Homo sapiens: one gene and its partners. The protein of the gene in region 4 purifies or fractionates together with the protein of the main gene of each other region. This does not show direct contact. Each region holds a gene or a part of one and is shown on either strand. Other genes may lie near its edges.

Evidence for each region.
Region 1: the proteins of CLPB (region 4) and KIAA1191 purify together in Homo sapiens (co-immunoprecipitation; 3 studies listed by BioGRID and IntAct, with this or other methods). This does not show direct contact.
Region 2: the proteins of CLPB (region 4) and EIF5 purify together in Homo sapiens (affinity purification with mass spectrometry; 2 studies listed by BioGRID and IntAct, with this or other methods). This does not show direct contact.
Region 3: the proteins of CLPB (region 4) and ARFIP1 purify together in Homo sapiens (co-immunoprecipitation; 3 studies listed by BioGRID and IntAct, with this or other methods). This does not show direct contact.
Region 5: the proteins of CLPB (region 4) and CLUH purify together in Homo sapiens (co-immunoprecipitation; 3 studies listed by BioGRID and IntAct, with this or other methods). This does not show direct contact.
Region 6: the proteins of CLPB (region 4) and DDX19B purify together in Homo sapiens (affinity purification with mass spectrometry; one large-scale study listed by BioGRID and IntAct). This does not show direct contact.
Region 7: the proteins of CLPB (region 4) and EXOG purify together in Homo sapiens (affinity purification with mass spectrometry; 2 studies listed by BioGRID and IntAct, with this or other methods). This does not show direct contact.

The regions. Positions count from the first base shown.
Region 1 is NC_000005.10:176,355,265-176,359,348, forward strand, and holds part of KIAA1191 (putative monooxygenase p33MONOX), read right to left. Parts: intron 486-4,084; coding exon 307-485; intron 157-306; exon of another isoform or gene 1-156. UniProt on the Homo sapiens protein: Potential NADPH-dependent oxidoreductase. May be involved in the regulation of neuronal survival, differentiation and axonal outgrowth.
Region 2 is NC_000014.9:103,340,575-103,344,688, forward strand, and holds part of EIF5 (eukaryotic translation initiation factor 5), read left to right. Parts: intron 1-388; coding exon 389-478; 3' UTR 479-4,114.
Region 3 is NC_000004.12:152,786,216-152,790,329, forward strand, and holds part of ARFIP1 (arfaptin-1), read left to right. Parts: intron 1-4,114. UniProt on the Homo sapiens protein: Plays a role in controlling biogenesis of secretory granules at the trans-Golgi network. Mechanistically, binds ARF-GTP at the neck of a growing secretory granule precursor and forms a protective scaffold.
Region 4 is NC_000011.10:72,287,767-72,291,648, reverse strand, and holds part of CLPB (mitochondrial disaggregase), read left to right. Parts: 3' UTR 1-3,882. UniProt on the Homo sapiens protein: Functions as a regulatory ATPase and participates in secretion/protein trafficking process. Has ATP-dependent protein disaggregase activity and is required to maintain the solubility of key mitochondrial proteins.
Region 5 is NC_000017.11:2,701,713-2,705,826, forward strand, and holds part of CLUH (clustered mitochondria protein homolog), read right to left. Parts: intron 2,853-4,114; coding exon 2,650-2,852; intron 1,778-2,649; coding exon 1,606-1,777; intron 346-1,605; coding exon 202-345; intron 26-201; coding exon 1-25. UniProt on the Homo sapiens protein: mRNA-binding protein involved in proper cytoplasmic distribution of mitochondria.
Region 6 is NC_000016.10:70,322,939-70,327,052, reverse strand, and holds part of DDX19B (ATP-dependent RNA helicase DDX19B), read right to left. Parts: intron 2,469-4,114; coding exon 2,366-2,468; intron 1,480-2,365; coding exon 1,365-1,479; intron 1-1,364. UniProt on the Homo sapiens protein: ATP-dependent RNA helicase involved in mRNA export from the nucleus.
Region 7 is NC_000003.12:38,494,895-38,499,611, forward strand, and holds the start of EXOG (nuclease EXOG, mitochondrial isoform 1 precursor), read left to right. Parts: upstream 1-1,445; 5' UTR 1,446-1,473; coding exon 1,474-1,636; exon of another isoform or gene 1,637-2,734; coding exon 2,735-2,884; intron 2,885-3,872; exon of another isoform or gene 3,873-4,717. UniProt on the Homo sapiens protein: Endo/exonuclease with nicking activity towards supercoiled DNA, a preference for single-stranded DNA and 5'-3' exonuclease activity.

The DNA of each region.
Region 1 (4,084 bases), on a different chromosome or scaffold from region 4:
ACCATCTATTGGGTACACTGTACACTATTCGGGTGACGGGTGCACTAAAAGCCCAGACTTCACCACTATACAATTCATCCATGCGAACAACACCTCGGGTAACCCTAAAGCTACTGATTTTTTTTTTAACAAAATAAATAAAATCTTAAAAAAAAAAAAAAGACAGCTATAACTGAGGCACAGAAAACACATACAGGGAGTGGTTGCTGCCCAGTCCCATGGGCACAGGGAGCCACTGAAGGCTTCTGGAGCAGAGGAAGGACAAAGGGGTTGCGTATGCCAGAAATGGCCAGCAGGGTCAGATACCTTGGCGAGGTGCTGATACTTGCGCTCTGGAATCACTGGCTTCCAAGGGACGCTGCCCATGTCCGATGGAGGAGGAGTCATGGGCGCAGGGTCCTCGAGGGTATCATCATAGCTGACTGCCCGGCGGTATATCCCGATGGGCAGGGACATCTTGCCTAGAGGCGCACTAGCCTCAAGAGCTAAGAACAGAGACACCTGTCAAGACAGGTTCAGCAACTGGACATACTAGCAGCTTTAAATTAATCTACAGGAAGGAAAGCTCTGAAATACTCTTGTTCTTGAACAGAGCAAAATAGCTTGTTTTGGAGTAGCTAATCCCATCCAGGAAAGGCAGTGGTACCAATCCCTTCCTCTATGCCTGACACCTTGGGTGGTCCACTTAACCCACTCAGCCGTCCTAATCCTTTTTTTTTATTATTTGTTTAGAGACACAGTCTATGTTGCCCAGGCTGGAGTGCAGCGGCACGATCACGGCTCACTGCAGGCTCAACCTCCTGGGCTCAAGTGCCTCAGCCTAGCGAGTAGTTGGGATTCTAGGCATGTGCCACCATGTCCAGCTAATTTTCATGGATCAGGAAACCTGAAGTTCCATTTAAAGGTACTTGACCACAACTTCAAAGTACAGTTTGGAATCCAATCCCAACCAAACCTATCTGATTTCAAAGCTGTGTCCTTTATCCCACAGAAGCCACCCCCTACTGCAATACTAAGGCTCTCAGTTCGTGCAAGACTGAGGATATGAAATGACCGAGGATACGAAGTTCTCATTCCCATTTCATAGATGAGGAAACTAAGGCCTAGGGGTAAAGTGACCTTCCCAAGTTCATTCAGAAAATGGCTACCTGGGGCTCAGCCAAGGTCTGTGAATCCTCTACCTTCCTTTCCTCACCAAAGAAAACACCAGCACTAACAGAAATGTTTGTGGCATCACTGTTCTGTATGATTTATTTAAACAGTAGAGTCACTTTCCATCACAGAAATTATTGACAACCACTCTCACAAATCACCAGCTGATCCTGCCATTCCTGTCCACTGGAACTGACGCCCAGCATGTCGGGTTGTGATGCAGCCACCCCATTCAAGGGCACTCTCAGCTGTGCCAGACCAGGGAGCCAAGTTCATTGTGTTTCGTTTGCTAATCCTTGCATATCAGAACTAATGTCCAGAACCTACCTGAAAGGTAACATTTTCCTGTGGCTAAAATCATATAATAACACTCTCTAAGACATCAACCTGCCTGGCAATAAGTCCAAAACCACAAAAGGTTTCATTTAAACGGCAAGGGGACCAAGCAGCTATCATTATTATTACTATTGCTATTAGTAATAATTAACAAAACCATAGAAATAAAAAGAGGATTAGAGGTTGCCAGGGAGTGGGTGGGGGGAGTGAGGATACGACTGCTAATGGTACGAGGTTTTCCTTTGGAGGTTATGAAAACGTACTGCAGTTTGGATGGGTGTGGTGGCTCACACCTGTAATCCCAGCACTTTGGGAGGCTGATGTGGGTGGATCACCTGAGGTCAGGCGTTCCGGCCTAGCCAACATGGTGAAATCCCATCTCTACTCAAAATACAAAAATTAGCCAGGCGTGGTGGTACGTGCCTGTAGTCCCAGCTACTTGGGAGACTGAGGCAGGAGAATTGCTTGAACCCAGGAGGCGGAGGTTGCAGAGAGCCAAGATCGTGCCACTGCATTCCAACCTAGGCAACAGAGCGAGATTCCATCTCAAAAAAAAAAAGAAAAGAAAAGAAAATGTGCTGCAATTGATCGTAGTGTTGTTTGCACAACCCTGTGAATATACTAAAAATCACGACATTGTTCACTTTCAGTGGGTGAATTTTATGATATGTGCATTACATCTCAAACACACACACAAGCAAATAATAATTACTAAGTCTTCCTCCTTGCTAGACAATTACATCCCTCATCTTATCTAATCCTCATGAAGCAGATATTCTTCCCATTTTCAAATTTTCCATTTTCACAATCAACTTGCCCAATATCACCTAGCTTGAAAGAGTGTGCTGGGAACTGGAACACAGACCTGAGCCGGTGCACACACTCTGCATGCAACACACTACAAAGCATTCACTGAATGGGCACAATCCTATGGCTCGCGACGGCTACACGGAGTTTGTGGTAATCACAGCAACAATGAAAGACAAACTAAAACGGAGCTGATGATGTTAAGACTAGAGATGGATCTATATTGGGGAATACGGGAGACTTGGGGAGCAATTTCAAAAACATCTTAAAGACTCCCACTGAACAGCCATCCTAAAACAAATAAAGTCAGCTAGTATTTACTGGAAAATATGTTCATATAAAGACAGACCAAATGCATTCTGGGCAGTAAATACATATTTATCACTGATTTTTAACTCCTGTTTTTACATATTTTGTTTAATCTTCACAACCCCGAGAGATAGGAACCATCATCTTTCTTCATCATCATACTTTACCGAGAATCAGAAATTAAGCGATTCAGATGTAATTAAAAATCACTTTCCTTTCTCATAAAACAATTCAAGTAGTCATCAATGGTGTCAATAACCCAGAACTTGACTCATTAAGGGTTGCTGTGAGCATTTTCATGATTAAGTTCAATCTGCCATTTAAGCAGGCTGGTGCCTTTTTACCAAGACTTCCATCCCACCTCCCCATCACCCCCAAAAAGGTGAGTTTAATCACTTTGGTACATACTACAAGAACTGCACAACTTATTCTGAATTATTATTTGATAACTAGGAAAGTAACAAACTTGTCATAATACCCTTAAATGAAGTGACTATTCTCTTTAAGTTAAAGTTTCATACTATGGCTGAGCGGCTAATAAAATATTTAAATGATGCCAATCTAAGGCTAGGCGTGGTGGCTCACACCTGTAATCCCAGCACTTTGGGAGGCCAAGGTGGAAGGATCACCTGAGGTCAGGAGTTTGAGACCAGCCTGGCCAACATGGAGAAACCCTGTCTCTATTAAAAATACAAAAATTAGCCGGGCGTGGTGGCAGGCAGCTGTAATCCCAGCTACTCGAGGCTGAGGCAGGAGAATCACTTGAGCCCAGGAGGCGGAGGTTGCAGTGAGCTGAGATCACACCACTGTATTCTAGCCTGGGCAGCAGAGTGAGACTCAAAAATAAAATAAAACTGGCTGGGCGTGGTGGCTCACACCTGTAATCCCAACACTTTGGGAGGCCGAGGCAGGCAGATCACAAGGTCAGGAGTTCCGCCGGGCACGGTGGCTCACGCCTGTAATCCCATTACCTTGGGAGGCCGAGGCGGGCGGATCACAAGGTCAAGAAATCGAGACCATCCTGGCTAACACGGTGAAACCTCGTCTCTACTAAAAATACAAAAAATTAGCTGGGCATGGTGGTGGGCGCCTGTAGTCCCAGCTACTCGGGAGGCTGAGGCAGGAGAATGGTGTGAACCCGGGAGGCGGAGCTTGCAGTGAGCTGAGATCGCGCCACTGCACTCCAGCCTGGGCGACAGAGCAAGACTCTGTCTCAAAAAAAAAAAAAAAAAAAAAGGTCAGGAGTTCCAGACCAGCCTGGCCAATATGGTGAAACCCCGTCTCTACAAAAAATACAAAAATTAGCTGGGTGTGGTGGCGGGCACCTGTAATCCCAGCTACTGGGGAGGCTGAGGCAGGAGAATGGCTTGAACCCAGGAAGCGGAGGTAGCAGTGAGCCGAGATTGTGCCGCTGCACTCCAGCCTGGGCAACAGAGCAAGACTCCATCTCAAAAAAATAAAATAAAATAAAATAAGCCAA
Region 2 (4,114 bases), on a different chromosome or scaffold from region 4:
GAGGAGGGTATTGGATACAGTGCTGGCATGGGTGTTTGAGATTTAAAAAGGTTTGTGAGGAGTGATATAATGGCAGTTTGGGGTAATTTCAGGTTTAGAATTTAAGATGCAGTAAAATACAGCCTCTCAATAATTTGGAAAATAATAGAAAGGGTGATGGAAACTGTGTTCCTACTCCTACACATTATAGTCTATAAAAAAACTTTAAAAATGCTCTTAGACTGGAGCCTGTGTAAGAGAACTTGCAGTGTTTGCATAACAGAGCTGTTCCGTGAAGAAGAAATAGCTGCATCTAGGCAGTTTCCTCCTCTGTGACCACAATTTACATTGATTTGTTTTATAAACAGATTTATCAGCTTATGTTGAATAAAATCATTCCTCTTAACAGGTGGTGTATTCGAAGGCTGCCAGTGTACCGAAAGTTGAGACTGTAAAGTCAGACAACAAGGATGACGACATCGATATTGATGCCATTTAAAGGGATGGATGCAACCTAGCTTAACAGTATAATGCTGCAAATTTTCCTCCATTATCAGCCAGAAGTGCAACATGTATGTGCAAAAGCTAAAATGGCTTAACATCATGCTACACTTTACACTAAAAATCTATTACTGTGAGTGGTCTGTTATTAAGCCCAATGAGACATCTAGGGAGTCCATACACATCAGTGAGCAGATGTAGTTTGCTTATTTATAGCATGTTTCTTTTTGAAAAACTAGTGGTGGACACATTTGGATCACATTTATACAGTTATAAAAATAAAGGTTTGATTTTGGTCGTTCTTCAGATGTTTGGCTCTGAATGACTTAAGCTGAAGTAACTGGCTCCTTACTTTAAATGTTCTGCCATCATTTCACCTGATGAGCATTCTTGGAGCCTGCCAGATATTGTTAGGTCCTGGGGCTGCAAAGAGGTCCTCAACAGGATGTAAAGCAAACTTAATTGTAATTAATTTATTCAGCCCATTAAGAAAGTACTAAAGTTTTATCTCTGTAGTTCCTCAAATTGGCATCTGGTAATGTACATTGTGAGGTAGACTGATAATGAAATGACAGTGTAACATCTTAACCAAGAAGTAAATATGACCTCAGTGTCCTATAAATAATGTAAGAGCAGGATTTGAAACTTGGAGAGCTGTTTTCTCATTTCATGTACACTTGCCCCAAATTGTCTTTGAAGTCGTGTGCATTGCACGTTGGATGAGCCAGGGAAATTATTACATTAACAAGCATTTTGTGTGTACGTAGTAGTTACTTTGTACTGAGAGAACTTGCTTTGGGGTGCAATTAATAAACTGATTTTATTTGGGAGAAACAAGGAAGGGTGCACTTAACTAGCAACCTAAGCATGATTTTTCAGCTTTTGCCCTTAGGGTTTAAATTACAATTCCAAAATGTTAGACATACTGTATTTTTTCGTTCAGTGTGGCTTTAATTTTCCCCTCTTGCAGTTTGTTCTGTAATGCCTTTTACATTTGGACACATAGTTTATGCTTTTTAGATTTTGGTTGCTTTCTTGCCAAAATAAGTGTTAACTGTGTTTCAAACTTGATTTTCTTTCCTTTTTCTTTTTTTTTTCTTCCAGAATGTCTTATTTAAAAAGAAAGCTAAAAGCATACTTCTAAGTCAGAGCCTCTATTTTGGTGTAAGACTTGGGATATTTTTTACTTCACATTGAATATAGCCAGGCACCCAAGAAGTCTGATGGCCACCTGAGTGCAGGTGACAAGGACCTGACAGAGCCCATGCAGGGCTTTAGATTTGGACACACAAGAGTTGATAACTTCCTCATGAACTCCTTGCCTGATCTAAACTCATATTATGGGTTCTGACTGTTTGAGTAATCATCTTCAAGGTTAAACCTCTTGGCAGTTACCCTTTTCACAAAGTGCACAGTGGGAATCGAGAATCGATAGGGTTAATTTTGGAGCAGTGGCTTATACCATTCACCTCTGTTTTTTTGTGATTATTTCACAGATAATGAGACCTTAATAACAAATAGGCGTAAAAAAATTTTCACATTGAAATGATAGAAACATTTGATGTAATAAAACTTGGTTGGCTTGATATTTTAAGGAATTGAAACCTAGCAATCTTATTGGAGAGACAAGAATTGGTCTCCAGCTGCCTTTGATCAAGATTCGGGTGCAAGTGGAGCAGGAGCCATATACCTGGAGGGAATGTGCTTTGTCACACCAAAGAGGATTTTTTTTTCTTCAAACTTGTATGTTGCCTAGGTTTCAAATTCTTTGCCGCAAGGCTGATCTGCTTTCATTAACTGGAATTCTGTAGGAGATACTGGTGACCTAAGCTAAGTTGCACTCAGCATACTCAGTGTCAAGCTAATGAGGTTCTATTATAAAGGTTCTACTTTTAATCTGAGGGAAAACATGTTCAGGGCTTCTAGAACACTAAAAAATTTGGCTTAAACCAGTGTTCAGTCTGGTGCCAAACTTCGAATGGAATACAAATTCACATAATCTGAACTTTGTTCACAGGTTATCCTAATAGAGTAATTCTTCACTTTGCTCTATTGAACTGTCTTAAGGATTTGTTTAAACAGCTAAGTTACTTGATTAAAATAATGATAAAATTGTATTTTGTCTTTGCTTTAATATTAAAGTTAACAAGTTTTCATTTTATAATGAGATCAAAGCATTGGAATCTGCCCTGTTTTGTAGCCGTTGCTTTGGATTTGTGTTGGATGTATCCTGCAGTTACACTTGCCAGCCCCACTCACAAAAGTTGTTCATTTCATTGGGTCACTGGCTTTATTTGCTAGTCTTGTCTGTGAACTGAGCATCTGCCTCAGTTTTATTACTTGAAATCTTGGCAGGTGCTTAATAGGGAACATACATACAGCTATGTAACTGTGAATAATTGTATATATCTCTAGTTAAGAATGAGGGAATGGGGAGGTTTGCTTTCTAAACAAGTGCATTCTGAAATTGACTTAAAAATTTTTAGTGTGGGTCCTAAAGTTTAGAGATGGGCAAGGAGGTCTCTAATCCACCGCTTCCCGCTTGAGAAGGGAGGGGTATCAAAATTGAGCCCCAAGCTGTTTGTTCCAGTGTACCAAGCACTGACTTTATGCCTTTGGCCTGGAGATGGCAGAAGTGAAAGCTGGCCATCTGCAAAAAGCAGATAAGTGAGTTTGAACCTTTTGCATTTTGTTAGCTCAGTCAGTCCTCATCGTGGTCCTGAGGCATAGGTACTGTTGTACCAAGGTCACTTATCTAACAAAATAACCCTTCATGTATTTTAAATTTATTTGACAAGTCTGCAGACAATCCTTATCTAACCAGCTATTTTCTTAATTGCTACAGCTTGACCTACCAGTATTCCGGAGTAACCAGCAAATGCAAAGTTGACCTTGTTCCTGCATCATCTTTTTGATGGTTCAAATTTCAGCCTCCCTGACTACTACAAAGCCAGAGCAGTCTTAGTACCAGAAACAGTGTTGCACTTTCGTTGCATGTGCTGTGTGACCCCAAGGGGACAGGGAGTCACTTTGGTCATCTCTGTCCCCAGTACAGATCTTGATTCATAGTGACATTCCATAAGTGGGGTGACAGCAAATGACTTGCAGGTAGTCTCATTGTAGGTTTGTGCACCAGAGTGACCCTGTGAGCCTTTGTTAATAGGTTGGGAGCTCAGGGTGTTTATGTCCACCTGTCTGGTCTAGCCAAACAGTTTTTTTCTGGGAATCAAATTTCTGTGGTTTTTATGGCCAGAAATTTTAAGGACTTGTGTGTGCTGGGATATGAGAATAGAAGCTACAGAGTTCTTTTCTTGGGACCTAGACTGGGAGGTGCAATGTCAGGACCTCCAGGTGAATGGTAGGATCTGAGTTGACCCTGCAGTTCGGTTATGCAGTCAATTATTTCTTTTTAAGAGGAGGAGGATTCACTTGGGTGTTGGGATCAAATTTGGATTCTGTCCCAGGCCTTACTGTAAAACTAGGGGATTGCCTTTCCATATCTGCTGGGGGTGGAGACCCTTATGTGCAGCACTCAATCCCACTGGAAGCCTAATGCTGCAGTCAGAAGCAATGCCTGGCTGGGGCAGTAGGGGAAATTCCACCCAATTTTGCTATGAGCCTAAAACCTCTTTAA
Region 3 (4,114 bases), on a different chromosome or scaffold from region 4:
GTTTTCTGTCTGCTTTGAGCTGTAGATCTGTATGTCTTGCTGTCTTGTTGACATCCTTTCTTGAATATCTTAAAGGTATCTCAAATCCAGTATGTCTAAAATGAAACTGATTTCCCCTTCCCTCCCTACAAAACTGCACAACGTTGGTTCTTTCTTTGTTCCTTTTTTCAGTGAATGACACAATTATCTTTTCATTGTAAAATCCAGAAAACTAGAAGTGATCCTTAATTCCCTCTCCCTGATAGATCCAATGATTGAACAAGTTTTTAAAGTCTTACTTTCTACATGACTCTTGAATTTTTCTATTTCTTCCTGTTTCCACTACTGCCACTTCATCTTGCCTGAAACTTTTACAATAGCCTCCATTCTTATCTGTCCTCTCTAATTCATTACCCATCTTGAAGGCACAGTGATTTATTTTGAAACACACATTGGATTATCACTCTCCTTCTTCCTCCCCCAGTGCTTTTATGGCTTTCCATTGCTTCTAGGATCAAAATAAAACTGCTTAACAGCCTTTAGCTCTCCAGACTCATCTTGTACCATGTTCTGCATAACTCTCCAGTTCAACCATGCTGGCCTTCTTTAGTCCTTTGTATGCACCTTGCTCCCTGCCATTTTTGCAAGGCTTTTGTACATGCTTTTCTCTCTGTCTGGACCATTCTTTCTTTACTTTCATTTCATTTCACTTGTTAGTTCCTAGTCATCCTTCACACCTCAGCTGAAGTTTTGCATCCTTAGAGAATATGCTCACTTCCCACATTAAGGTAATAGCATCATACATTTCCCGCAGTTTGCAATTTACATTTATTCATGTGACTGTAAGATTTTCTTTCTGTTCAGTGGCCTATAAACTTCATGAAGGTAAGGTCCATATCTTGTTTTCTTTTTTGGCTCATTTTTGAATCCCTAGAACCTAGCTCAGTACCTGACACCTAAATTTGACTCATTAAATTTCCAAGTTAATGGTATTAAGGATTTCAGTTCATCGAGTTTTGTAATACAAGAATTTGAATATGAATTTTTATAAAAATAGTGTTAAAATGGTAGTACAGTTTGAACATTCCTAATCCAAAAACTTGAAATCCAAAATGCTGCAAAATTCAAAACTTTTTTGAGCCCAACATGATGCTACAAGTACATAATTCTACACCCAACTTTATGTGATGAATCAAAGTCAGAATGCAGGTGTACAACAGTTTCTCCAAGAGAAAAAAGACCTGCCTAGCCCCCTTCAGCTGCCATATATCTTTTCCTCACACAGCCAGATGCACCTACGCAAGCATGCCCGCAAAGGGCAATACAATGCCATGTGTATGTGTAAGAAATGATTGGTTATACGTAGCATATAAATTCAGAGACGGGAATGATAGTGATGTCAAACAACCACAGACTGTCCACATGAGTGGCTGAGATAGTGACACCTTTGCTTTTGGATGGTACAGTGTATACAAACTTTGTTTCATGCAAAAAATTATTAAAAGTATTATATAAAATTACCTTCAAGCTATGTGTATAAGGTGTATATGAAATGTAAATGAATTTTGTGTTTACACTTGGGTCCCTTCCTGAAGATACCTCATTATGCATATGGAAATATTCCAAATGCCAAAAAAATCTGAAATCCAAAACATTTCTAGTCTCAAACATTTTGGAAAAGGGATAATCAACCTGTAATTAAATTTTCAGTTTGACTATTTCTTTCAAGTGTATGGAAATAAATTATTAGGCCGGGCACAGTGGCTCACGCCTGTAATCCCAGCACTTTGGGTGGCCGAGGTGGGTGGATCACTTGAGGTTGGGAGTTCAAGACCAGCCTGGCCAACATGGTGAAACCCTGTCTCTACTAAAAAATATACATATACAGATTAGCTGGGCGTGGTGACCTGCACCTGTAATTCCAGCTACTTGGGAGGTTGAGGTGGAAGATCGTTTGAACCTGGGAGGCAGAGGTTGCAGTGAGCCGAGATCGTGCCTCTGCACTCCAGCCTGGGCGACAGCAAGACTCCGTCTCAAAACAAAAAATGTGTTATTAGTAGCTATATAAAATATAGCAATATAGCACAGTATTCTTACACTATTTTGTAATAGACCCTTTTATTTTTGGATGGTTTTAGTTTTACAGAATTACTGTGAAGATAGAATAGAGCTTCCCATACCCACTTTCCCCTATTATAAGATAGGCTGTGCACAGTGGCTCATGCCAGTAATCCTAGCACTTTGGGAGGTCAAGGCAGGTGGATTGCTTCAGCTCAGGAGTTCAAGACCAGCCTGGGCAACATGGTGAAACCCCATCTCTACCAAAAATACAAAAAATTAGCTGGGCATGGTGGTGCCCATCTGTGATCTCAGCTACTTGGGAGGCTGAGGTGGGAGGATTACTTGAGCCCAGGAGGCGGAGGTTGCAGTGAGCAGAGATTATGCCACGGTACTCCATCCTGGATGACAGAGCGAGACTCCATCTCAAAAAAACAAAAACAAAAACATACTACATTAGCATAGTACATTTGTCACAATTAACCAATATTGGCACGTAATTATTAAAGTCCATATTTTATTCAGATTACCTCACTTTTCCCCAATGTCTTTTTTTTTTTTTTTTTTTTCTGTTCAAGGATCCCATCTAGGATAGCATATTACCTTTAGTGGTCATGTATCCTTTCATTTTGACAGTTTCTCAGATTTCCTTGTTTTTGATGACAAGTTGATAGTTTTGAAGATTACTGCCTGGTCAGGTATTTTGTAGACTGTCCCTCAGTTGGGACTTGTCTGCTGTTTTTCTCATTAGACTGGGTGATATGTTTCTAGGAGGAAGATCACAGAAGTAAAGTGCCATTCCCATCACATCATATCAAGAATACAGACTTTTTTTTTTTTTTTTTTTTTTTTTTTTGAGGTAGAGTCTCACTCTGTTGCCCAGGCTGGAGTGCAGTAACGCAATCTCGGCTCACTGCAACCTCCACCTCCTGGGTTCAAGCGATTTTCCTGTCTCAGCCTCCCAAGTAGCTGGGTCTACAGGTACATGCCACCATGCCCGGCTAATTTTTGTATTTTTAGTAGAGAGAGGTTTCACCATGTTGGCCAGGCTGGTCTTGAACTCCTGACCTCAGGTGATCCACACACCTCAGCCTCCCAAAGTGTTGGGATTACAGGCGTGAGCCACTGTACCTGGCCAAGAATACAAACTATTAATATGACAGTACCATTGATATTAACCTTGACTACTTGGCTTGAGATAATGTTCATCAGTTTTGTCCACTGTAAAGTTACTCTGTTTTCCCCCTCCTTTTGTATATTGTACTTTTTAGAAGAAAGTCTCTCTGTGAAGCACACAATTGGGAATTGGGGAATTATGCTTTACCTCTTTAAGGGTGAAGTGTCTACATAAATTTTTGAAAAATCTTCTATAAGAGTTTTTTGTCTATTCTCCCCTTTCAGTCGTTTATTTATATCAGTCTGACTCATGGATATTTATTTTATACTTAAGGGTAAATCCAGTAGTACTTTATTACTTTGTTGCTCAAATTGTTTCAGCTGTGGCCACTGGGAGCTCTTTTAGTTGGTTCCTGTATTCCTTTGACATACTCCTGTCATTGTGAGACTTTTGTTCTTGTTTTGTTTGTTTGTTTGTTTTTGAGCACTTTTAACTTTCTGGTATTACAAAATGCTCTAGGCTCACCTTGTGTATTACCTACCACAGGCCTAGAATCAGCCTTTTCTCCAAGGAGCACTGATTCCTTCTATTGGAGAATAGTATTAGAAACCAATATCTGGGCACTATGTTTGCTCATTGCTGTTGGAATGTCATTGCTTCTAGGCCCTCCCAGTGGACAGAGTAAGGAAATATATGTGTGTACACTAACTCATGTATATACACATATCTATAAATATTTCTATATGTAACTATATATATGTTAAGCTATATTTTCAGTTTATTTCCTGTGAGCATTTTTCATTAAAAAAATTACCTGTGAATATTGAAGGGGTTTATTTTACATGGTTTTGGGAATTTAGTAACAAAAAGTAACTCTCCAATTATCCATTGCTAAGGGACAAAAGCAGTTCAGATAATACCAAATAACAGGTAACCTGTTTGATCTTTGAATGAAATCAA
Region 4 (3,882 bases):
ATCCTACAAAGCCATACTGTAGTTTATCAAAACCAGGAAATTGCCGGGTGTGGTGGCTCATGCCTGTAATTCCAGCACTTTGGGAGGCTGAGGCAGGCAGATTACCTGAGGTCAGGAGTTCGAGACCAGCCTGGCCAACATGGTGAAACCCTGTCTGTACTAAAAATACAAAAATTAGCCAGGCCCGCTGGTGCCCACCTGTAATCCCAGCTACTTGGGAGGCTGAGGCAGGAGAATCACTTGAGCCCAGGAGGCGGAGGTTGCAGTGAGCTGAAATCACGCCACTGCACTCCAGCCTGGGCGACAGAGTGAGACTCCGTCTCAAAAAAAGAAAACCAGGAAGTTAACATTGATAAACTACTACTAACTAATCTACGGACATTCAAATTTTGCCAGTTTTCCCGATGATGTCCTTTGTCTGGTCCAGGGTCCCATATTGCATTTTGTTGTGGTGTTTCCTTCATCTCTGTCAGCCTGTGACAGTTTCTTGGTCTTTATCTTTCATGACCTTGACACTTTGGAAGAGTCCAGGCCAGTTATTTTATAGAATATTCCCCAGTTTTAGTTTGTTTAATGTTTTTACATGATATGATTGAGGATCTGCATTTTTGCCAAGACAACCACAGAAGTGATACTGTGCTATTCTTAGTGCCTCCTAGCGGAGGGTGGTGGTAACTTTTTGTTTTGGTTTTTTTTTTTTTTTTGAGACGGAGTCCCGCTCTGTCACCCAGGATGGAGTGCAGTGGCGCAATCTCGGCTCACTGCAACCTCTGCCTCCTGGGTTCAAAGTGATTCTCCTGCCTCAGCCTCCTGAGTAGCTGGGATTGCAGGTGCCCACCACCACACCCAGCTAATTTTTGTATTTTTAGTAGAGACAGGTTTTCGCCATGTTGGCCAGGCTGGTCTTGAACTCCTGACCTCAGGTGATCCACCCACCTCGGCCTCCCAAAGTGCTGAGATTACAGGCATGAGCCACCACACCTAGACTAGGTGGTGGTAACTTTGATCACATGGCTAAGGTGGTGTGTGCCAGGTTTCTCCACTGTAAAATTAGGAATTTTCCCTTTGAAATTAACAAGAATCTTCCACTTTGAAGCTATGTGAATGTCTTATTCTTAAAATTTTGCCTACTGATTTTCATTTCCATCATCAATGATTCTTGCTTATAACAGGTATTAATGTTATGCTTGCCTAATGGTGACTTTGTTTCATTATTTTACCTGTATTTATTAATTGGTATTCTACTATAAGGAAGAGCTGTCCCTTTTCCCCATTTATTTATTTGATAATTTATATCAGTATGAATGAGTGGATATCTGTTTTATTCTACAGGCTACAATCTAATGCTAACAGTTTATTTGGTTGCTCAAATTGGCTCAGATTTGGCCAGTGAGAACTCATTGAAGTTGGCACTGTGTTGTTTCGACATTGCCCCTGTCACTTTTTAAGCATTTTCTGGCACCACAAGATGTTTCAGGCTTCCTCACATTTTCCCTATCTCAGCCCTGGCATCAGTCATTCTCTAAGAAGCTCCCAGTTCCTTTTATTCCAGAAAAAAGGAACTTAGAAACCAAGTTGTTTCTTGATGCCACTGGAAACCAAGATCTGGACAGAATATATACTCCTGGCTAGAGTATCATTGGCGGAGTGTCATTGCTTGTAGGCCTGCTCAGCAGACAGAGCTAGAAAACATATATGTATATATGTTAAAACATGCAAATACAAGCACCTGAATTTATTATTCTATCCATCTGTATGTTATTAAAAACCGTGAGCCAGGTATGGTGGCTCGTGCCTGTATCCCAGGACTTTGGGAGGCCAAAGTGGGAGGATCACTTGAGCCCAGGAGTTCAAGACCAGCCTGCGCATCATAGCAAGACCTCATCCTCCAAACGTTTAAAAAATAAAAAATTAGCCAGGCATGGTGGTGCATTCCTGTAATCCTAGCTACGTAGGAGGCTGAGGCAGGAGGATCGCTTGAGTTCAGAAGGTTGAGGCTGTAGTGAACTGTGATTGTACCACTGCACTGCAGCCTGAGTGACAGAGCAAGACTCCGTTTCATATTTTTAAAAATAAATAAAAATCATGAGTTTAGATACGGTTTTAATTCAATACCATAGGGTTTGCGACTGCCATTTTTATAACCTTACTATTCTTTTTCTGCTTTTTCTCCTGCTATCTCTGTTTCTGCTCCTTTCTATTTGATGTTTAGACTTCCCATAGAGGCTCTAGTTAAGTCAGCTAGTAACCAGCCTGTGTGCAGTATTCCTACTAGATAGAGGTCTTATGCCCGGCTGTCAGTCCGTTGGTTCAGTTAACTGTGGCCAGGAATACTAGGCATATAACTTAAAATCAGATAACTTTTATACAAGAAAAGCCAATGGCCACCTTCCTGAGAATAGGATAAGGAGACAGGGGTAGAACCTTAGATTCTAAGGAACCTAATTAAGAATCACTTCTGGCCGGGCGTGGTGGCTCATGCCTGTAATCCCAACACTCTGGAGGCCATGTAGGGGCAGATCACGAGATCAAGAGATTGAGACCATCCTGACCAACATGGTGAAACCCCATCTCTACTAAAAATACAAAAATTAGCCAGGCGTGGTGGCGGGCGCCTGTAGTCTCAGCTACTCGGGAGGCTGAGGCAGGAGAATCGCTTGAACCCGGGAGGTGGAGGTTGCAGTGAGCCGAAATTGTGCCACTGCACTCCAGCCTGGTGACAGAGCCAGCCTCCGTCTCCAACAAAAACAAACAAAAAAAGAATTACTTCTTCCAGAGATTCTCTGCCAGAACTCCTAGGTGGTGTTGGACCCATATCTTTTACTTCCATAGCATCCCAGGCTCAGCTCACTTGTCCTACTTGTTCTGTGTCTTCATCACTAGAATGTAAGTTCTAAGAGGGCAGATGCCAAGCTGTTCAGCCATTCACAGAACCTGGCACAGTGCAGGCATATGACAGATGTTCCTTTATTATTATACTTGGGTGAGTGGATGGGACCTGCAGCAAGTGCAGATCTTCTCAGTGGGCTCTGGAACAGAAAAGTATTGTTTGTTTGCTCAGCATATTTTTATTTGTCCCATGTTGCTGTGGCCAGGATTTGAGCTCTGAGACAATGCAGCAAGGTGAGACCCAGATTTCTTTTGTTTTGTTTTGTTTTTTGAGACAGAGTCTTGCTCTGTCGCCCAGGCTGGAGTGCGGTGGTGCAATCTTGGCTCACTGCAACCTCCACCTCCAGTTCAAGCAGGTCTCATGCCTCAGCCTCCTCAGTAGCTGGGACTACAGGCATATGCCACCATACCCAGCTAATTTTTTTTGTATTTTTAGTAAAGACGGGGTTTCACCATGTTTGCCAGGCTAGTCTCAAACTCCTGGTCTCAAGTGATCCACCCACCTTGGCCTCCCAGAGTGCTGAGATTACAAGCGTCAACGACTGTACCCGGCCCCAAATTCCTTATTGAGGATCCTAGAATACATGAGACCAGACTTGGAAATGAAAGTGTAACATGTTTATTGTTCAAAAAGAAAAACTCAAAGGTGTGTAGTGATTTTAAAATTTAGGGAAATTCCTCAATATAGTGAAAGAAGAAAAACAAGAAAGAAATTTAGGAAAGAAACACACTTAAACCATAAAAAATAGAAAATGGACCAATAAAGATAAAAGCTAAACTTAACAAGGTAGGAAAAAGAAAAAGAATAAATTAAAAAATTCTTTGAAAGCACCAATAAAATAGATAAAACCTCCTGAGCCTGATAAAAGGGGAAAGGAGCCAAAAAAATTAACAAAATTAGGCATGAGAAATTAGACATAACCATATATATTGAGGAATTGAGAAGAAGAATAGAACTCTATGGCAACAAATTTGAAATCAGAGGAAATGGAT
Region 5 (4,114 bases), on a different chromosome or scaffold from region 4:
AAGCCCTTCTTCCGCTTCCCGCTGTCTGAGGGACCCGAGGCTGGTGGTCAGCACAGGGCCACCCAGGGCCAGCTGTCTCCCTACCTCCTGATGGCCGTGGTCCGGGTGCCTCAGGCCCAGGCCCCTCGGCCCCTTCTCCAGCCCCCCACCTCCGTGCTCCCCGCCCTTTGGCCCAATCCCCGGCCCCAGTGCCTCCCGCACCTCCCAGGTCGCCGTCGGTGAAGACACTCAGGAAGGACAAGGAGTTGCAGTCAACCCCGTTGAAGGCATCGGATGGGTCCAGGCTCTTGAGCAGGTCTCGGACATGGCGCACGTGGATGCGGGCCTCACGCACCGTGTACGGCTCTGTCAGGAAGGCAGGGAGGGTATGGCGTTACCAGGGCCCTGCACCCTGAACAACCTGCCCAGCACAAAACAGGTTTTGGAGGTGCTAACACAGTGGTTTTAATTTTCAACTTTAGGTTTCCGTTTTCAAATTCCACTGTGAACACATAAGCTGGAGTTCTGGTTTTGACACCACAAACACACACACACACACACTCTGCCTACTGGTGAGCAGGGATCTTTGTTTATAAAGAACTTTCTGCCAAATGCCTCTGAAGCACACACAGGCCTCAGGCGTCCACAAGGCTGCCTGCTTTTGTGCGCCAGTGTGTCGGCTGGGCAGGGCTTTTGGAGCTGTGGGACTTCCACACCACAGCCTTGCCCTGCTCTCCCGAGGCAGCCTCATGTAGGGGTGGCCTGAGGACTTTCCAAGGCCCCCAATGTCAACACTGCCCCTATGTGGTTTCATGGGATTTTAATGGCAGTTCTTTTGGTGGAGGGGAGAGGTTCCGTGATCAACTGTGGGCGCTGTTGAGCTACAGACCTTTTCCGTCACTGCTCTCAACAGGCGGACAGGCCCTGGGGTGGAACCCAAGCAGCTTCTACCCAGAAAACTCGAGGCCACAGACCAACCGGATGGCACCTCCCCGTGCCCGACCTCCCCACTCTAGGGCTAGGAAACGTTTGGGACTTCTCATGGATCTCTACAGAACTGAACTGCGCTGACTTCACGCCCTGGGATGGTACTGCCTGATTTTTTTTTTTTAGAATCACGGCTCTGTTCTTTTGTTTTGTTTTTTTTTTTGAGACGGAGTTTCGTTCTTGTTGCCCATGCTGGAGTGCAGTGGCACGATCCGGGCACACTGCAACCTCTGCCTCCCAGGTTCAAGTGATTCTCCTGCCTCAGCCTCCCGAGTAGCTGGGATTACAGGCACCTGCCACCACGCGCAGCTAACTTTTTGTATTTTTAGTAGAGATGGGGTTTCACCATGTTGGCCAGGCAAGTCTCCAACTCCTGACCTCAGGTGATCCACACGCCTTGGCCTCCCAAAGTGTTGGGATTACAGGCGTGAGCCACCATGCCCAGCCCACGGCTCTGTTCTTTAACCCATGGGCCGTGAAGTTGGCAGATATAGGTGTGCTGGCCTGAGAAGCAGATCTGTGCTCCAATCCTGCCTCCATGAGCTCATCCGTGACACAGGGACCCTGGCATGGATGGTGCTGCCTGCCTCTGCCTCCGTGGGCCCTCCCCCGGGCAGGCTGTCCAACTTCCAGACCAACCTTCCACCACACGCAGCACAGAGCCCTCCTGCAGCCCCTCGACGCTGCGCAGCTCCGAGAAGTGGTCCAGCACGTTGCCATCCAGGTGCAGTGAGAAGCAGGTGCGGTGACACGTGTCCTCCCGGTCCATGAGCACCTGGTGAATCTCCTGCACCATCTCCTGGGGGGACACCTGCAGGGAGAAGGCCCCGCCCACCCCGGTGAGAGAGCACGTAGCGGGGAGAGAAGGCCCCAACCGCCCCGGTGAGAGGCCACGTAGCGGACAGCAAGGACAATATCCCCTTGTCCCCAGCCCAAAGTACCTTGGTCCCCAGAATAAATGCCCCAAATACTCGAATATCGGCTATCCCACTTTCTGGCTTTTAAATCCAGGCCATGTCCACACATGCCATGCCCTGTGTGTGCAGCCTGGAGCCTGGCCCACCGACTCGGCCTGCAGACCCAGAGCAATGCCCGAGCAGAGAAGGGAGATGAAGAACAGCGGGACAGAAGACGGCAGGCTCGCCCCCGGCCTTGCCCAGTGCTAAGGTGCCTGGGGCAAATGGCTTTCCCCTTCCAGAAGGGGTGCTCTGGGGCCCAAGCCTGCGGGTGCCGAGACATACGACGACCCTGTCTCGTTCCCCACTGAGTCACCGGCTTGCAAGACCTCCACGCTGGCTCTGCCCTTGGAGATAACCCAATACTACCCTCCCCTCTGGCAGATGGTAAAATCACGGCCCAGAGAGAGGTGACTTGCCTGAGGGCACAGAGCAAGAGGCTGGGGAGTCCTGGGATGCCAACACTTCCCAGCCACTATCACTCCCCTCCCCACATAGGGCTGGCAGGCCCAGCTGGTTGCTGTCCTCTAGCAATGGGGCAACGACCTGACCCTGGGCTCGATTCCCACGTCCACCACGCTAGCTGAGTGACTCTAGGGAGGGCACGGGATCCTCAGTTTCCTGCCACAAAATGGGGCCGGTAGGAGCACGAGCAAGGCTGAGCTTTCCAGCTCACCCTCCCCAGCAGGCTCAGGCCTGGCCCCCAGCACCCGTTCCTCCATCTTACCTGCAGGGAGAAGGGCTCGATCCCAGGGGCGAGGATCTTCACAGAAAAGCCCGTGTCCTGAATGACAATGACTTCCTGGCCGGTGGTCTCATCTCCCGGGCCGGCCTCGTCAAGCCCATTTTCCCTGGGTGGCTCGGCCGCCGCCGCCTCCTTCTTCAGGCTCTCTGGGCAGTCCCCGTTTAAGAGCATGACTGATGGCAGCTCTGCGGGTGACAAGAACGGGTCAGAATCAGGCAGCCTCGCTGGTCGGCGGGGCTGTCCGCCTGACCCCACACGGGGACACGTGCCTTCTGGAAAGGCATCTGCATGCCCTCGAGAGTCCCAGCCTCACGGTCGCGCCTCGCCCTCCGTGCACCTGCAGGCCACTTCCACACCCAGCCGCCCCTCCCAGCCACTGTTCCCTGGCCCACTGTGGTATGGCTTGCACCTGAACCCATGTCCCAAACCACTCTCCCCAGGGTCACCAAAGCCACCCTTCAAGCCAAGCCCGAGGGTCTCCTCCGGCCCTAACACACCTAGCTTCCCAGCAGCAGTTCCCCTCTTCCTCTCCTCTTCTCTGACCCCACACAGTGCCCTTGCCCCTCCCTCTCCAGCTCCATCCTCTTCCATCCCTCCTGAGCTGTGGTCCTGGGCTGCAGGGGGGCTGCAGGGGAGTGCCTAGGCCCAGCCTCTCCTGTTTCTGACCCCACCCCCTCCCATACACTCCTGCCCCGTGGCTCACACGGCCAATCCTGTCCTCTCTCCAGCCTTTTGGACCAAGGAGACCGCTGCCTCCCAGGCATCAACATGTGGCTGTCCCTGAGGCATCACTGAAGCCTCGTCTTGCAGGGACAGAACTCATCTTCCTCCTCAAACTGGCACCTGCTCTATCTAGTCACCCACCCTAAATCTCCCAACCCACCCACGGGACCCGGCCTCTGCAGCCACTGCCCTAGGGCAGGCATTTCCTCTATTTCAGCAGTGCCACCTGCAACCCTCCTAGGAAGCCCACTGCTTACAAGACCAAGCTTCTCAGGCCAGCGCTCTCAGGCACCCACCTGAAGTCAGCCTCAGCTCCTGCCTGCTCCCTGCTGAGGTCTAAGGACACCACACCATGCAAGCCTGGTACCGCCCACAGCCCTCCCACCGCCCTCCCACCGCTGTGCTTCTGTGTCTGTGCTGCCCCTGACATCCCATTCTGTACAGCAAACACTGACTCACCCTTCAAGGCCTAGGAGAAATAAACCTTTTCCACAGCCTGCCCAAATGACCCTTAATGGCAGAATCACACTCCCTCCCCCTTTCATTCCCAGAGACATTCGGCTGCACCCAGGGTGGCGTCCTCACCAGCAGCTCTACCCACCACCTTCTATCTTGCCCAGGCTCAACAAAAAAGGCAACAAATAAAGTACTTACTGCAAACCTCTAGCTACATCCAATATTTGAAGACAGCACCCAATCCACATGCTCCAGGGTGGGGAGCAGG
Region 6 (4,114 bases), on a different chromosome or scaffold from region 4:
ACCATCCTGGCTAACACAGTGAAACCCCGTCTCTACTAAAAATACAAAAAATTAGCTGGGCGTAGTGGTGGGCGCCTGTAGTCCCAGCTACTCAGGAGGCTGAGGCAGGAGAATGGTGTGAACCCCAGAGGCAGAGCTTGCAGTGAGCCAAGACTGTGCCACTGCTCTCCAGCCTGGGCGACAGGGCGAGACTCTCTCTCAAAAAAAAAAGAAAGAAGTCTGGGCACAGTGGCTCACACCTATAATCTCAGCACTTTGGGAGGCCGAGGCAGATGGATAACCTGAGGTCAAGAGTTTGAGACCAGCCTGGCCAACGTGGTGAAACCCCATCTGTACTAAAAATACAAAATTAGCCAGCCATGGTGGCAGGCACCTGTAATCCCAGCTACTTGGGAGTCTGAGGCAGGAGAATCACTTGAACCCGGAGGGCAGAGGTTGCAGTGAGCCAAGATCATGCCACTGTACTCCAGCCTGAGTGACAGAGCAAGACTCTGTTTCTAAAATAAATAAATAAAAATAAACAAATCTAGAATGTAGAATTTTTGTTTGTTTGTTTTTTGTTTGTTTGCTTGTTTTGAGACGGAGTCTCGCTCTGTCGCCCAGGCTCGAGTGCAGTGGCGCTATTTCAGCTCACTGCTAGCTCTGCCTCCCAGGTTCACACCATTCTCCTGCCTCAGCCTCGCAAGTAGCTGGGACTACAGGTGCCCGCCACCACGCCTGGCTAATTTTTTTGTATTTTTATTAGATACGGGGTTTCACCATGATAGCTAGGATGGTCTCAATCTCCTGATCTCGTGATCTGCTGCCCGCCTCGGCCTCCCAAAGGGCTGGGATTACAGGCGTGAGCCACCGCGCCCGGCCAGAATGTAGAATATTTGAAAAGCAACTAGTCTGGTCTGTGCAAAATGTTAAATATAATAGGGAGAGAAAAAGGTAGGGGTACAATTCTAGATTGAAAGAAACAAGTACAACAACCAAACGCAACGTATAAACGCTAACTTGATCTTGGTCGAAAAACCAAACAGCTATAAAGGAAGACTTTGGGAACAGCTGGGGAGGAATAAAAATGGACTGGTATTAGTTATTCTAGGAAATCTGTTAATTTTCCTGGTTGTGATAAAAGGGTATCCATAGGTATGGCAAAGAATGTCCTCATGAGGTGCATGTCTGCAGTTTACTTTCAAATGGTTTGACAAAAATGTATACATTTATGTAAAGCAAATATGGCAAAATGTTAAGTTTTTGAATCTAGCTGGAGAACATACATGTGTTTATTGTATTATTTCAACTATTGGGTGGGTTTTGAAATATTTCAAAATAAAAAGAATTAGGTTGATGATTTAGGACCAAATTCACATACTCACATTTATTGCCTCGAACAGCATAAGCTAGCTTCAGTTCAGGGTAAAATTTGCCCATTTGTTCAATCACTTTTCCTGTTTGGAGGGCGAGCTCATACGTTGGGGAGAGACATAGACACTGGCAGGAAAAGAATGCAGAGTGCAAATTCAAGACAATAGCTCTTTTGCAAAGGGGAATTACCATTAGTACTTAGCCACTCCTCCAGCTGAAGCTGAAGGAAAGAATATGTACATTAAAATGTACACCATTTGATTCTTTAAGCTACAGAGTCATAAGCTAGAATTCTTAGGGGTCAGAACTCTGGCTGGGTAAAGACACTTGAAAACAGATACTGGCCACTGCAATACAAAAACCCACCCATGAGCAAGGATCTAAAGTTCCAATTGGCATTAGCTTTCTTTTCGTTTACTCAGAAAGCTCTCAGAACTTTCTAATGGATGGCAGTTGCTGATGAAACAGGTTTTCCTGCAAGTAAAGGAGCCAAGCCTGTAAGAAGCATCCCAGAACTGGCACACCATGGAAAAAGGAAACAGGATTTTTATTGCCATTGGAAGATATCCCGTATTATTTGTGCTCAATTTAAGGAGTTTCAGTTTGTGTAAAAAGTAATGCATAGCTTGGCTTTTATTTTATTTTTTTGAGACAGAGTTTCGTTCTTTTTGCCCAGGCTGGAGTGCAATGGTGCGATCTCAGCTCACTGCAACCTCCGCCTCCCGGGTTCAAATGATTCTCTTGCCTCAGTTTCCCAAGTAGCTGGGATTACAGGCACATGCCACCAGGCCCAGCTAATTTTTTATTTTTAGTAGAGACAGGGTTTCACCATGTTGGCCAGGCTGGTCTAGAACTCCTGACCTCAGGTGATCCGCCCACCTCGGCCTCCCAAAGTGCTGGGATTACAGGCATGAGCCACTGCACCCAGCCCATAGCTTGTCTTTTAATCCATCAAATGGAAATCCCCTTCTATCTATGCATTAGTAGAAAACCTAAATTCATAAATCCTTACCTGGGGGTATTTGTTTGCAGGTTCTACTTGGCTAAGCATGGCCAGCACGAAGGCAGCTGTTTTACCAGTACCAGACTGAGATTGGGCAATTAAGTTCTGTGGGCTGCGCAAGAAACAAACTAGTTAGGAGCTTAAATCTCAACCTTTTAGTTAACAAAGTTTAAAAAAATGAGTATTAAAAATTCATTTATAGGAGACCTTGGATTATGTAGCAGAGTTACATATGCTAGCTTCACAAGAACAGGGCACTATAGAAATAAGATTTTCTGGTGGGATTTGAAGCACTCCACATCTTCTTCTTTTTTTTTTTTTTTTTTTTTTTTTTGAGATTAGGTCTCACTCTGTTGACCAGGCTGGAGTGCAGTGGCACAATCTTGGCTCACTGCAGCCTCAACCTCCTGGGCTCAAGTGATCCTCTTGCCTCAGCCTCCCAAAGTGCTGGGATTATAGGTGTGAGTCACTGCAGTTGGCCTACTGATTCTTAAAATGTGAGTCAGCTCACATTACTTCTCTGCCCAAAGACCTTCCAATAATTCCTCGTTTCATTCAGAGTACAAGTTGAAACCCTCATAATGGCATACAGGTCCTGCATGATCTGCTCCCCATTACACCTCAGCTCTCATTTCCTACTACTCTCTCTCCCTTACTTCGTTCCACCACAGGGCCCTAGTACTGCTCAGAGAACATGCCAGTCATGCTCTTGTCTTAGGGCTTCTGCCTTGGCTGTGCTCTGCTTGGGACAACTGTCCCCAGATAACATGCTAACTCCCTTCTCTCCTTCAAGTCTTTGCCCAGATATCTACTTCAGGAGATCCTACCTTAACCACTTGATTTAAAAGTGTAATCTACCTTGAAATGCCTAAAAAAAACAAGATGTAGGTTTTGGTAGCAGGGTAGGGGGTAAGAGTGGCAAGAACCAAGTCTTGCCTTGAAGGTGGCAAGAAGCAGCTCAAGAAGCAGGCAAGGCCAGGCGCGGTGGCTCATGCCTGCAATCCCAGAACTTTGGGAGGCCGAGGTGGGTGGATCATTCGAGGTCAGGAATTTGAGACCAGCCTGGCCAACATGGTAAAACCCTGACTCTACTAAAAATACAAAAATTAGCCAGGCATGGTGGTGGGCGCCTGTAGTCCCAGCTCCTTGGGAGGCTGAGGCAGGAGAATCGCTTGAACCCACGAGGCAGAGGTTGCAGTGAGCCGAGATCGCGCCACTGTACTCCAGCCTGGGTGATAGAGCGAGACTCAGTGTCAAAAAAAAAAAAAGAAAAAAGAAAAAAAGCAGGCAAGGTCAGGTGCAGTGGCTCATGCCTGCAATCTCAGCACTTCGGGAGGTTGAGGTGGGTGATTTCTTGAGCCTAGGAGTTTGAGACCAGCCTGGGCAAAATACCGAAACCCTTTCTCTACAAAAGATACAAACATTAGCTGGACATGGTGGTACATACCTGAAGTCCCAGCTACCTGGGAGGCTGACATGTGAGGATCTCTTGAGCCCAGGAGGTGGAGGGTGGAGGTTGCAGGCTGCAGTGAGCTGAGACTGCACCACTGTACTCCAGCCCTGGTGACAGAGCAAGACCCTGTCTCAAAAAAACAAAAAACAAAAAACGGAGCAGCCGCAGCAGGCCAAAGATATGGACGAGGAAAATGAGGTCTTCCGGCAGGGGAAAAAACAAACAAACAAACAGAAGAAACATGAACTAAAAGTGAAACCATGGGGAGGGCCCCCGGCCACAGGTGGAATTTTAAAATCTGGCAA
Region 7 (4,717 bases), on a different chromosome or scaffold from region 4:
TTTTTTTTTTTAGACAGAGTCTTGCTCTATTGCCCAGATTGGAGTGCAGTGGCACGATCTCAGCTCACTGCAACCTCCGTCTCCTGGGTTCAAGCAATTCTGCCTCAGCCTTTCGAGTAGCTGGGATTACAGGCACGCGCCACCACACCTGGTTGATTTTTGTATTGTTAGTAGAGACGGGGTTTCACCATGTTGGCCAGGCTGGTCTCAAATTCCTGACCTCAGGTGATCCTCCAGTCTTGGCCTCCCGAAGTGCTGGGATTGCAGGCATGAGCCACTGCGCCTGTGAGTTTTACGTCACAGCTTTGCTACCCAGAGAGACTACTAGATCGAAAATCCCTAGGAAGGACTCTGGTTGATGTAGCTTAACCAGTCAGGGTCCTTCAGAAGAGGTATTCCTGGCAAGGGGGTAGCCTCCCATTTGAGGCTGTCAAAATAATGTGCACACTTCAGTAGGTTGTTAGAAGTGGCCTCCTGGTCAGTGAATCATCAGTGGGATCAGATGAAAGTTATTCCTACCAGTTATCTAAGAAATAGGAAACTTGAAGTTTCTGCTAAGAACTAAGTCCACACGGAATGCTAGAGATCATGCTGCAAAATGAAGACTCATTTGTTTGTGAGTGGTAGTCCATGAAATCTATCCTTTCTTTGCCAGCAGGCGTTCAGCAATCTGGATTTTATATTCTATCAAGACAAAGAGTAGAGATGACTCAAACATTTCTAACATTTATAGAGCACTTAGTGACATGCCCCTGGTACTTCCCTAAACATTTTACATGTGTCATCTCCTTTAATCCTCACAAGAACGCTATGGTCTAAGTATTATTATTCCAATTTAAAAGAGAAGGTTGGGGACAGTGACACACACCTGGACTTACAGCACTTTGGGAGGCCGAGGCGGGAAGATTGCTTGAGGCCAGAAGTTGGATACCAGCCTGGGCAACATAAGGAGACCCCCTTCTTTACCGCTCCCCCACTCCCGCCAAAAATTTAGCCGGGCAATGTGGCACGTGCCTGTAGTCCCAGCTACTCAGGAGGCTGAGGCAGGAGGATCGCTTGAGCCCACGAGTTCGAGATCGCAGTAAGCTATGATCATTCCACTGTACTGCAGCCTGGGTAACAGAGACCCTGTCGCTAAATAAATAAATAGACCTGAGTTGGAATATCGGCTCTGGAGACCTTAGTGTAACCATGCGCAAGTGTTTACTCACCTATTAAATGAGACTAAAGGTATTTTCTTCTCATGACTATATATAGCATACCACTAAGCCCTCTAGACATCATATTCCCCATCCATCGCCCCGTCCAGTGGACCAGGGATGAAGCGGGGATGCGCTAGGCATCCCGGTTTGTCACCAGGGGGCGTGCGAGGCCCTCAGCTTGGCGGGCGGTGAGGCGTGGGGTGACGGGGGGATGGCGGGGGCCGGCATGCGCGCGCATGCGCCGTGGTAAAAGGCCGGTACCTCGGGCAAGATGGCTATCAAGAGTATCGCTTCCCGCCTCCGGGGTTCCCGTCGTTTTCTGAGCGGCTTCGTGGCTGGGGCTGTAGTGGGCGCTGCGGGAGCTGGGCTCGCGGCCCTGCAGTTCTTCCGGAGTCAGGGCGCTGAGGGAGCGTTGACAGGGAAGCAGCCGGATGGTAAGTCTGTGGGCCCGTCCTCCCTTCGCTGGCCCAGATTTCGGGCTCCGACTCCTACCTGGAGTGTGAATGGCAGTCCTTGACGGACAGCCTTCACCGTTTGCTGGGCCCCTAGCCTGGCCCTTGGTTTCTGACCTTTATTCTCCCGGCTCGGCCTCCCTTCCCCACCTCGCGTCTCGCCAGCTTCCCTCATGTCCTTCCTTCCCCCGGGCATCTTCGTTTTCTGCACAGAACCACCCCCGCCGCCCGACTTTCTTCCCCCCAGTTACTCATCGCGATATCTATGTTTTAATGTCTGTGTTCTCTACTAAGATTGTTAGCTCCATAAGACTTGAGACTATGTCTGTTTTGGTCTCCATCATCTAACCAGCACAGTACCTGGTACATAATTGGCATTCAGTAAGTATGAATGAAGGAATAAATTAATACATAATTTTAGTAGATGAGTTAACTGCCCTTCTTTCGTCATTGTTCAGTTGAAGAATACCTGCTATCCCTCCAAAGTGTATAAAAACTCATGTTGCAATGGGTACCTTATATTTGACAAAAAAAAAAAAAAAATTAACACGAGCTCATTTCTTGTACTTTGCGGATGTGCTAATTTAACTTGCTCCTTTGGATACTTGGCATCTAGCAAGAGAACTACCCCCTTGGGGGGTTGAGGATTTGAGAAGGCATCGGGGAGGATTATCTCGAAACTGACTCACTGCTGAATGTGTGCTTGGTTTCTCCCACTAGGAAAAACAGTACCAGTTTTACTGTCATCTTGCAACAGCACACATATCAGTGCTTCAGAGATGATTTGGAAATTTGATGTGAAAGACTAATAAGATCAAGTCTTTATTCAAAAGTTAATGCAGTAGCTGCATTTTATTCACTGATTATAGGCAAATCAGTACTTTGCCTACTGTCTGTTTTCTTCATCTCATAAGTAATTGCAAAAATGAGATTTTCTGGTTGATTAGACTTCTGAGCCAGTCCTTTGTAAATCACACCGCTCTCCTTTTCCTTATAATCTTTCATTATTAAGAGCCACTAATTGTGTGTGTGTGTTTTTTTTGTCTCTGCCCCCCCTTTTTTTTTTTTTTTCATTTTTAGGATCTGCAGAAAAGGCTGTCTTGGAACAATTTGGATTCCCTTTAACTGGAACAGAGGCAAGGTGTTACACTAATCACGCTTTGTCTTATGATCAGGCAAAGCGGGTGCCTAGATGGGTTCTTGAACATATTTCCAAAAGCAAGATAATGGGTAGGTGGTTGGATAAAAAAACTGAAGTAACAGTATTTATGAAAGATGTCTCCAAATTTAAAACAGGGATGATTATTAATATTCTCAACCTTTTTCATATCATAGCACATGTAGAAAATTATATTTATATAACTTACTGGTTAAATCAACCCTGCCTGGCAGCCAGAAAGCCAGACCCTTTCCAGCTGTCTCAGGGCTGAAAATACCCATATCTTGACACACTAGTTGGGAGGCTCTGTCATAAATATTACAGCAATGAGCACCATTCAGTTTTACCTTAACAAATATTTATGTGCCTGCTATGTGTCTGGCACTGTGGTAACCCTTGGGGACCTATGTGTGACCAGAGTAGAGGATCTCTACCCCAGTGACACTTTGAGTTGGGAGAGTGGGTTGACCCATCAAACAAATAATTTTAGATGTATAATTACAATAATTTTTCCAAAGGAGGTGATTGCAAGTTAGTGTAGTATAATTAAGGAACAGTAAAAAGTTTGATGAGAGGCTGGGCGTGGTGGCTCACACCTGTAATCCCAGTACTTTGGGAGGCTGAGGCGTTTGAGCTCAGGAGTTTGAGATGAGCCTGGCCAACATGGCAAAACCGCGTTTCTACAAAAAATACAAAAATTAGCTGGGCGTGGTGGTGCACCTCTGTGGTTCCAGCTACTTGGGGGACTGAGATGGGAGGATCTCTTGAGCCCAGGAGGTGGGGGTTGCAGTGAGCCAAGATCGCAGCACCACACTCCAGCTTAGGCAACAGAGGGAGAATGTGTCTCAAAAAAAAAAAAAAGTGTGATGAGAGATTATAACACAAGAACCTGATTTTGATTAGTAAGGCTTCTCTGGAAAAGTGGACTGAAGAGTGAACGGAAATTACTTAGGCAAGGGGTTGAATGTGCCATGGGATATGGAGAAGAGCATTCTAGGAAGAAAGGAACATTTGCATCTTCGGAGGCCCCCAATGTGGACAGGAGTTTTGTTCTTTTAGGGAACTAAAAGAGTGCCAGTAGATGAATGAGGGGGAAGGTGATGTGAAATGATGCTGGAGAAGTAAGCAGGTGTGTCAGTTTATTCATGTGTCCTTATGTCTTGATAGGGTCCTGTAGAATTGCCAGATCTTGATAATTAATGTCAAATTGGTTTCTAGGTAGATTCTTCAAGTTTACACTCCTAGCATCATTGTTTCTTCTCTCTCTCAACCTTCACCTATGGTGAGCATTACTGAGCTTTACCAATTTAATGCTCATTTTACTTGTGTTTATTGATTATCAATGAGGGTTAACATGCTGTGAATTAGTCTTTTTTGGTAAGTTATTCTTTACCTATTTCAGTTGGGGTATTCTCTTTTGAATTTATTTGTAAAAGTTCTTTTATTTATTAAGGATATTACCTTTTGTCACAGTTGTTTTGTTCCCTTTTGTTATTTGCTTTTTAATTTGCTGTGTGTTCCACATATTCTCCTTTGCTTTAAAATGTGTGCTATGGCTATGCATATTAAAATGCTGATATTAAAGTTAGTGTGTGCCATTCTAGAGTGCACAGCAACCAGCAGAATAACAGGAGGCTTGGAATGTACTTGGTGTTAGACAGAAACTGATGTAAGTGAAAACTTTATCAAGCATATAAGAAAACCTGGGCATTTTATATTGTATAATAAGTCTTGTGAGCTGTGTACTTTTGAGGCAATAAAATAGAGCCAATTAATATTATTTGAAAATAGGGAGCAATGTACCTGTGTTTTACTTGATTTTAATGTAAAAGGTCTTCTGTTTTCAGTAATGATGGACTGAGTTATTCAGATAGAATCTTCCTGCTGAAACAGAAAATGTTAGT